Linked DNA regions of Homo sapiens: regions 1 and 2 are each linked to region 3. The links come from fine-mapping of genetic effects on gene expression. A gene starts in region 3. Each other region holds a variant in brackets. All regions are shown on one strand. Distances are from middle to middle. Region 1 overlaps SLC31A1 (solute carrier family 31 member 1). Region 2 overlaps FKBP15 (FKBP prolyl isomerase family member 15). Region 3 holds the start of SLC31A1 (solute carrier family 31 member 1).

What was found. PIP is the estimated chance that this variant, and not a neighbour inherited with it, causes the effect.
Region 1: its variant is the best candidate, but not a certain one, in a credible set for the expression of SLC31A1 in thyroid (GTEx, PIP 0.76).
Region 2: its variant is the best candidate, but not a certain one, in a credible set for the expression of SLC31A1 in whole blood (TOPMed, PIP 0.50).

What each region holds. Positions count from the first base shown.
Region 1 is chr9:113,262,231-113,264,949 of GRCh38, reverse strand. SLC31A1 (solute carrier family 31 member 1) reads right to left here. Exons shown (of 5, transcript NM_001859.4): 5 at 458-2,719. Among named protein-coding and RNA genes, the nearest start is that of CDC26, 12 kb to the left of the region's middle. The variant T/C (reference allele first, on the strand shown) is at 1,196.
Region 2 is chr9:113,166,799-113,169,579 of GRCh38, reverse strand. It overlaps FKBP15 (FKBP prolyl isomerase family member 15), which reads left to right. Exons shown (of 28, transcript NM_015258.2): 26 at 1-356; 27 at 1,024-1,120. Among named protein-coding and RNA genes, the nearest start is that of SLC31A2, 17 kb to the right of the region's middle. The variant GT/T (reference allele first, on the strand shown) is at 1,694.
Region 3 is chr9:113,220,142-113,222,922 of GRCh38, reverse strand. SLC31A1 (solute carrier family 31 member 1) reads right to left here and starts at 1,379. Exons shown (of 5, transcript NM_001859.4): 1 at 1,245-1,379. It overlaps FKBP15 (FKBP prolyl isomerase family member 15), which reads left to right and starts at 1,646. Exons shown (of 28, transcript NM_015258.2): 1 at 1,646-1,732. The coding sequence starts at 1,680. RefSeq lists enhancers at 468-657, 1,498-1,607, 1,718-1,847.

The DNA.
Region 1 (2,719 bases), 42 kb before region 3:
TAAGTCGAGTAGGGGGAGAGTGAGATGAAAACCTAAAAGGATCATACCACCTAAAATACGGACATCTTTTTTTTTTTTTTTTTTTGAGACGGAGTCTCGCTGTGTTGCCCAGGTGCAATCTTGGCTCACTGCAACCTCTGACTTCCGGGTTCACACCATTCTCCTGCCTCAGCCTCCCAAGTAGCTGGGACTACAGGCGCCCACCACCAGGCCTGGCTAATTTTTTAATATTTTTTTTAGTAGAGACGGGTTTCACCGTGTTAGCCAGGATGGTCTCGATCTCCTGACCTCATGATCCACCTGCCTCAGCCTCCCAAAGTGCTGGGATTACCAGGCGTGAGCCACCGCGCCCGGCCACAATATGGACATCTTAAAAACTGATGGTAATGGCCAGACTCTATGCAGACTATGAAAAGACTAGCTTATTGCATTATCACTCTGGGCAGAAAGACTTGCATAGAATCACAAAATCAAAATATTTATTTTGTTCTTTTTCATATGACACTGTTAAAACATTCCTACTACAGCAATACTGCTCTCCAGGAGCTTACAATCTAAAACAGTCAACATTAATTGTAGACCCAGTAATTAAGGCATTATATCAAATGCAGACTTTGTATCTTTTTTTTTTTTTTGAGACGGAGTTTTGCTCTTGTCGCCCAGGCTGGAGTGCAATGGCGCCATCTTGGCTCACTGCAACCTCCGCCTCCTGGGTTCAAGCGATTCTCCTGCCTCAGCCTCCCGAGTAGCTGGGATTACAGGCATGCACCACCACGCCCAGCTAATTTTTGTATTTTTAGTAGAGATGGGGTTTCACCACATTGGCCAGGCTGGTCTCAAACTCCTGACCTCAGGTGATCTGCACCCCCGCTTGGCCTCCCAAAGTGTGTGAGCCACTGTGCCCAGCCCAGAGTTTCTATCTTTTGATGTATCTTTTGAAGGAGCAGCTGGAGAGGGCAGGATCAAAATTAAATCACATGAAAGTGTACTCCCCTCCGCCTGCTCCTTATAAGGAACCCCTTATGACTAGAACCCAAGACCAGTACCCACAGCCTGAAAGGGAATTTCAGACAACCCTACCATAGAAGTAGTGAAGAAACCTTAATTTCTAATCTCCTAGTGGATACAGTGAGGATTCCATTTGTGGGCAATGGGGATGCTGGGAGTTCCTCCCTCACAGACTAGAGACGGCACC[T/C]AAGATTCTGTAACTCTGGGAAGGGTACCAGCCTTATAGAAATTCCAGTGGGTCAACTGCCTCTTGAAGCATGCTTAAAGTCTCTTAACAGGTTTATAAATGCCAATTTCTGGTTGGTATTATATCCACAGCATAGCACTGTCTACTGCATCAGGAGGGCTATGGAGACTTAATATACTAGACATGCGATTAAAAAAACTGAAAGAAAAGGGAAAGGACAACAGAGTAAGGGGGCCAAAGAAATGGTGATGCAGTCTTCTAATAGATGTGAATGGGGAAGGAAGAAAAGAGAAGTTTAGATCCAAAATGAACAAAGAAGTCAAGCATTAAATTCCAAATGAACAGGTATACAGAAATGAAAAGTTAATGAAATCATTGTATTATCACAATCCAAGAGCTCAAGATGGAATTTAAGCTTTTTCTCCTTCACTAGCTTCATCCTTTGGCAGCCAGTCTAAGAATCTCTGAAATTCAGGTTTTTCAGGAGATTATCTCTATCCTGAATACCTGAAGACCTAATCTAAACTGTTATTTCTTTCTGTGAATTTCAAAGTCATAGCATTTTGTCTTAACTGGCCTTGAATTTTCTTTTTTTCTGAGACAGGGTCTTGCTTTGTCACCCGGGCTGAGTGCAGTGGCGCAATCATGGCTTACTGCAGCCTCGACCTCCAGGGCTAAAGCAATCCTCCTGCCTCAGCCTCCCAAATAGCCAGGACTATAGGTATGCACCACCATGCCTGGCTAATTTTTGATTTTTTATAGAGATAGGATCTCACTATGTTGTCCAGGCTGGTCTCGAACTTCTGGACACAAGCCATCCTCCCACCTTGGCCTCCCAAAGTGTTGGGATTACAGGCATGAGCCATTGGGTCTAGCTGGCCTTACTGATTAGGTTTTGTTGCTGGGAGGGTATTCTATAGCAGCTCATGCTGAGATTTCTAGAGAGCACCAATGTCACTACTAACTATTGATTCCTATTTATTTCTCATGGTTTTATGACTCCTTGGCTTTAGACAACAGGCTGTATTATACCTTTGTGTTGGACTTCGTCAGTACCTGTCATTCACCCTGCTCATGTTAAGTATCATCATTACAAAGTGATGGAATGAGAGAAAAGCACAAAGCTCTAAATGTTGGTTCTTGGATTTTAACCTCAATCCAGTAGGCTCATAACCCTCTCTTGGTTCAAAGCCATACAAGTCCACATTCCTTGCTCTCCAATATTTAACTGGCACCCACAGAGAAAGTACAAACTTCAAAACCACAACACAGGCCAACAGGATAGCTGTGTTTTGTTTCCTCTGCCCTGAGGCACAACTGGATCTAGCACCAAGGAGGGCAGGATTTAACAGACCAGCACAAGACAAATCAATTTAAAGAGGTAGTTTGAACCAGGAATAAGACTGCAGTGTAGACTACAACTGAACAGAATACAAATCCAATGTGGTTCTTCACTGAGAACAGGGGTTTTGGCCACTTGTAATGTAATTAAACCCCCACGAATAACAAAGATGATTATATGGA
Region 2 (2,781 bases), 53 kb after region 3:
ATTCCACCTGAGCCCCTAGGCCCTGTATCCATGGACTCTGAGTGTGAGGAGTCACTTGCTGCCAGCCCAATGGCAGCTAAGCCCGACAACCCATCAGGAAAGGTCTGTGTCAGGGAAGTAGCACCAGATGGCCCACTACAAGAAAGCTCCACAAGACTGTCCCTGACTTCAGACCCCGAGGAGGGGGACCCACTGGCCTTAGGGCCTGAAAGCCCAGGAGAGCCTCAGCCTCCACAGCTCAAGAAAGATGATGTCACTAGCTCCACCGGTCCCCACAAGGAGCTGTCAAGCACAGAGGCAGGTTCCACAGTTGCAGGAGCAGCCCTCAGACCCAGCCATCATTCCCAGCGTTCCAGGTATGTTCCTCTGAGCACTGCTTCAGGGACAGGGTAGTTATCTGTGGTGAGTGTCTCTGTTTTTTCCAGGGCTGGCAACTCATCCCTCAGAGACTAATTTACTCATGTCTTCATTCATTAGTTGATGTATTAATTCAACAACACCTACCATGTACAAGGCTCTGTGGCGGGCCCTACAGTAGTGTGGCGGGCCCTGTGGTAGTGTGGCGGGCCCTGCGGTAGTGTGGCGGGCACTGTGGTAGTGTGGTGGGCCCTGTGATAGTGTGGTAGGCAAGGCAGGTTTGGTTCTTGAGTTTAAGGAGTGACAGTCAAGTGGAGAAAACAAATACATACTTACATATCATAAAGTATGATAAGTCCTTTTAAAAAAGAAACAGGGTGCTATTCTAAAGGAGTTGTTCCACTTTAGATAGGGTGGCTAGGGAAGGATTCTGAGAAGGTCACATTGAAAAGATGACTCTGGCTGTAGGTTCTGGAGGGGGCCAACCGCACTAGGAGGCCACTGTAGGGTGTGGGAAGAGATGGTGGCAGCGGAGGTGGGAGGAATTCCTGAGCAGTCACCAACGCTGTTGAATTCTTACCCAAGGGCCGGTGACCCTTGTAGGTGGTGGGTACTGTGACCTGGAGCAGGAACAATAACATTTTCTATGACTTGATTTTCCTTCAGTCTCTCTGGGGATGAAGAGGATGAACTGTTTAAAGGGGCAACTCTGAAAGCTCTGAGGCCCAAAGCACAGCCTGAGGAGGAGGATGAAGACGAGGTGGTAAGGAAATCCCAGGCACTGTCAAGTCCTCACACACCCACCTGGGGGCTCTTCCCTACTGGCTCTGAGAAGAGAAATGGAGCCTGTTGGTGGCCCACTCCCTGGACTCTGTGTGCAGGGCCCTGTGGGAGCAGGCTTGGGGCTGGGCTGGGAGGGCGCAGCTCTGTAAGCAGAGTAGGGGACGGTCACATACCACTTTACTTTTGAGAAAGAATCATAGTCTCTGTCCATGCAGGAATTAGTCCCCTCAGAGGAAGAAAGCTGAGCTGCTTAGCCCCACATTGGAATGCTGAAGCCTTAGTTTTCCCCAAATCTGCTAGGATATTATTTATATTTTAGAATTGGAAAGGACTTTGAAGATCATCTTGCCTGGCATCCTTATTCATAGATAAAAAACCTGAGGCTCAAAATGATGATTTACCCAAAGCCACAGAGTGAGTTAATGGCAAAGCTAGGACTAATCCCCAGGCTCCTGTAAAGACCTCCTGTTCCTGAGCATTTTCCACTTACTCAGCCTGCTTTCCTGCTGCCTTGTTTTGTCATCACAATATCCCTGGGCACAAAATGGGTTCA[GT/T]ATTAATAGCATAGCTTCACAGAACAAGAGTGAAGGCCAGGAGAGGAGGGCACTGATAGGGACTGAATTAGAACCCCGGTTCTCGCCTCTGCTGCTCCCCGCTGTGCTAGGTTACAACCGTTCTGGCTGTCCCTAGGCCATTTTGACTGCTCTGAAATGCATATGGAGAACACAGGTGGGCTTCAGGCTCAGTCCATCTAAAGGACAGAAATATGAGGGTGAATGGGGCAAATTTTGTCCCCTCATGTATCAGCCAGAGTGGATTTTGCCTTTTGCCAAAACCTTGAGCAGAGAGCTGTGATGGATCTATGCTCCAGCTTGCATGTATCGGAGCCCTTCCCTCTTGCCTGTGTTCCTTTGGGGAATGTACCAGTTCCTTCCATGAGTCTTTCTTCTCAAGAGTTAAATTTTCATTTGAGAATCCAGAATAGCAATTCTGCCCTTAAAAAAAGGAAAAAAGGGGGAAAAACCAAATTGAGTATATTCTAAGTGACTGCCCTAAATATAGTTGGAAGCTTTTAATTAGTGAGCATATTATTGGTATTAGTACCAATACTGTCCAGTTAACATGTAGTTCTTGGGTACTCTGAAAACGACTTCACAGATGTTGTCATTTAATCTACTAATCCAATGAGGTAGGTACTTTTATCCCATTTTATATATCAGAGGGCTGAGGCTCAGGAAGATTAAATAATTTAACTAAGCTTATATAGCTAGTAAATGTAGAGCCAGAACTTTAGTCAGGACAAAACAGAAGCTGTGAGCCACACTTGAAAATCCTATACTGTCAGAGTTAGAGATCACGTCATTGATGTCCAGAGAGAAGTACGAGGTCTGGCTAATTGGTAGTGACGTGGGATTAGCCCAGAGACTTGTATACACATCACGCTGCCTTCCCTTTTGCCTGGCCCTGTGAAGATGGATTCTGGTTGGCAGTTGCTCACCAGAGCAGAGAATGCCTTAGTAGAGACTATTCAGTTCGTGCCTGTCTGTAGCATCAATCCCTGCTAGCCGGGTAGGTCCTGTTCCCTTGCCAAGCCAGAGGAGAAAGGCCAGGAGCTCAAGCTGTGAAAAGAGAGGGTCTCTC
Region 3 (2,781 bases):
TAAACATTTAGATGTTTCAGTGCTGCAATCACAGTGACCGGTGTTGGGGAGAGGGATTAGAAAGTGCCATGGTACTTAATCCAGTTACTCCCCCAACACCTCCAAGAGGTAGCCAAGTTCACACACTAAACAGAGCTACTGCAACAGTTCTAGTGCTAGTCCTTAGATTCTAGTTCCAGTTCCGGTTCTAGTGCTTAGATTCCAGTTGCATCATTCCAACTGTGAGCCTTCGCTGCTTTAACATCTTTGCCAGGAGGTGCAAAGTTCTCTGGGAGGGAGCTACCAATCATTTCATTTCAATTTCATACTGACAGATTGAAACATTCACGTAAGGGACACCTGTAGTACCAACCTGACTGTGAGGGGAAGCCCAAGAACTCCAGTGAGTCTGTGGACGCTACGCTGGGACACTATCTCCTTAGCCACACCTTGTCTAAGCCAGGACTACCCCAGGATTGTTTCGAGAATGATACCAGGTTAACCAAAGAAATACTTATGTAAGATACAGATAGGGTGGAAACTGGAGGCAGAGGAGTCCGCCACAATTGATGTTGATTTAGGGCTGTCGCAGGAAGACCCAGGGAAACCCACGCCAAAGTTGGGGTGGGGATGTGTCTGCCTCCAAAGTATCCTCCTTTCCATCACCCACCGCCAGAATATCTTAGCTCTTCTGCACCTCATCCGCGTAGAATACAGGTGGACTCTAGAAAGGGGACTTTCCTCGAGGTGTATGCTACAGTCTTTCAATAGTCACTCTGTAAGGGCACACAGTGCTTAAGGGCTGATAAGGTTCTTGTTCACCCACTAGCTCACTATGTCCTGAATCAAAGGACGAGGAATCCAGTCTCAGTCTGCCCTTTACTCTTTGTGACCTCGGACTAGTCACCCGGGTGCTTAGTTCCTTCGTCTCCCTATCTGTAAATTCTGAGATTACGAGGAGGCCGGGATTGAAATCCATGGCCTCTGAGCTCTAAAATCTTCTGGACCAGCAGGCACATGGAAGAACTGGACAAATGGCCGGTTGCATACACGGGGAAACTGAGGCACCGAGCACCCCGGCCCAAGGTCACTCTGGCTATGCCACTGCAGGGGCCGGGCCGAAGCCCCAGTCTTTAACCCTCCAGTCCCGAGCTCTTTCTCCTTCCGCGGAGCTGAGGAAAGCGGCGAGGAAGGTCCTTGTCCCGCTGGGAAAAGGACGGTACCCATGCACAGGGGTGCGAAAGAGGGGCCGAGAGAAGCCTTACCTTTCCAGGTCAAGTCCAGCCACTAGCACCTCTCTCTCCGAATCTTAACCCGTCACCCCCTCACGACTCTTCGAACGGCCCCTCCACTTCTACCCGGCTCGACGTGTCCACCACCGCCACCGAGGCCGAGGATTTCCCGCCCCCTCCCGCCCCCTAGCATTACCGACCAATCCCTGCAAGGGGCTGTGAAGCTCCGCCCCGCTGCGGGCTGGAGAGGCCTGACGTCACTCGGCGCTCGTGCCCGCGCGAGCCTCTCATTTGCCTTTGCCCCACCTTCTCCAGAGCCCAGTCTACTTTCGGTCCAGAGACCGTGCTGGAGTTCGCCCTGCCGGAAAGCAGCACGCCGCCGCGGCATTTTACGACGTCGGCGGTGACAGGCCCTGGGACTCTGGGAATACCCAGCTTCCTCCCCGCAACCCGGTGAAAGCCAACGCAATGTTCGGTGCGGGGGACGAGGACGACACCGATTTCCTCTCGCCGAGCGGCGGGTGAGTGACTGAGAAGTATGCGCTGGAGGGCGTGGCTGAGAGATACCGGCGGATTGTTGGAGGGGGGTCGATCTCTTCTCAGGCCTTTTCCCAACTTCCGGGGGGAGACCCTTGCCACATTCCGGTGCTCTACACCTCTCAGAATCTGGGCAGAACTTGCAACTGTGCTGACCCTGCCGATCTGAGGTTCGGGACCCGGCATCTCTCTTGGCGGGAAGATAGCCCTGGGTTTGCCTTTTGCATTCTGGGTCACAATTTCTCCGGTGAAATGGGAATGATTGCTGATGAGACTTCCTGCCTCAGAATTTTTATAGGAGTCAGCTGGGGCTGATGTGAGACTTCTTTTCTCCATGGAGAAGGCGAAGACACTTTAGAACCAGGCCTTGGTGGGTCAGCTCTAGCATTCTTCAAGGCCCAGCTCGGATGTCACGTTTTGGATGCTTTTCCTTCTGCAACCTCAGGCAGAATGAATTGCTTTCTCTTCCTTATTCCTGCAGCTAGGTGTGTTTGCCTCTATTCTTATACCCCGCACCTATTAGATTATGAGTCCTCACCGGACAGGGACTGCTTATGGTGTTCATTTCTGTCTAGCATGCAGCATGGTACCTAGCACATAGTGAGTGCTCAGGAAGTGGCTGTTGAATGAATAATAGCTGCGAAATTGCACTTTGTAAAGCTTAAAGCTTAAAACCAACGTAACAGACTTCTGTCATTCTCCAGTTTCCCCAAGCATTATATTAATATATACCAGCCTGGAATAGAAATCTTTAAAGAGAGGAAGGGTTTTGTCTCTTTTAGTAGTCAGTTTAGCCTTTTCCATTGTGTTGTGCCAGTGGACAGCTTGACTTCCTCCAAACTTGTGAGCTACCAAGCTCTGATCATTGCAGAGCTTTTCTTTGAACATATGCTTAACAAATTTTGTGCGTGCTGAAGAATGTACTGGAAAAATGACAAATGCACCACATATGCCCCTTATTCTGCTAAATGCTAAGAGGTTACAAAAATGATTAAACTGCTGTGCCTGCCCTTAAGTTGCTTCCAGATCTGTT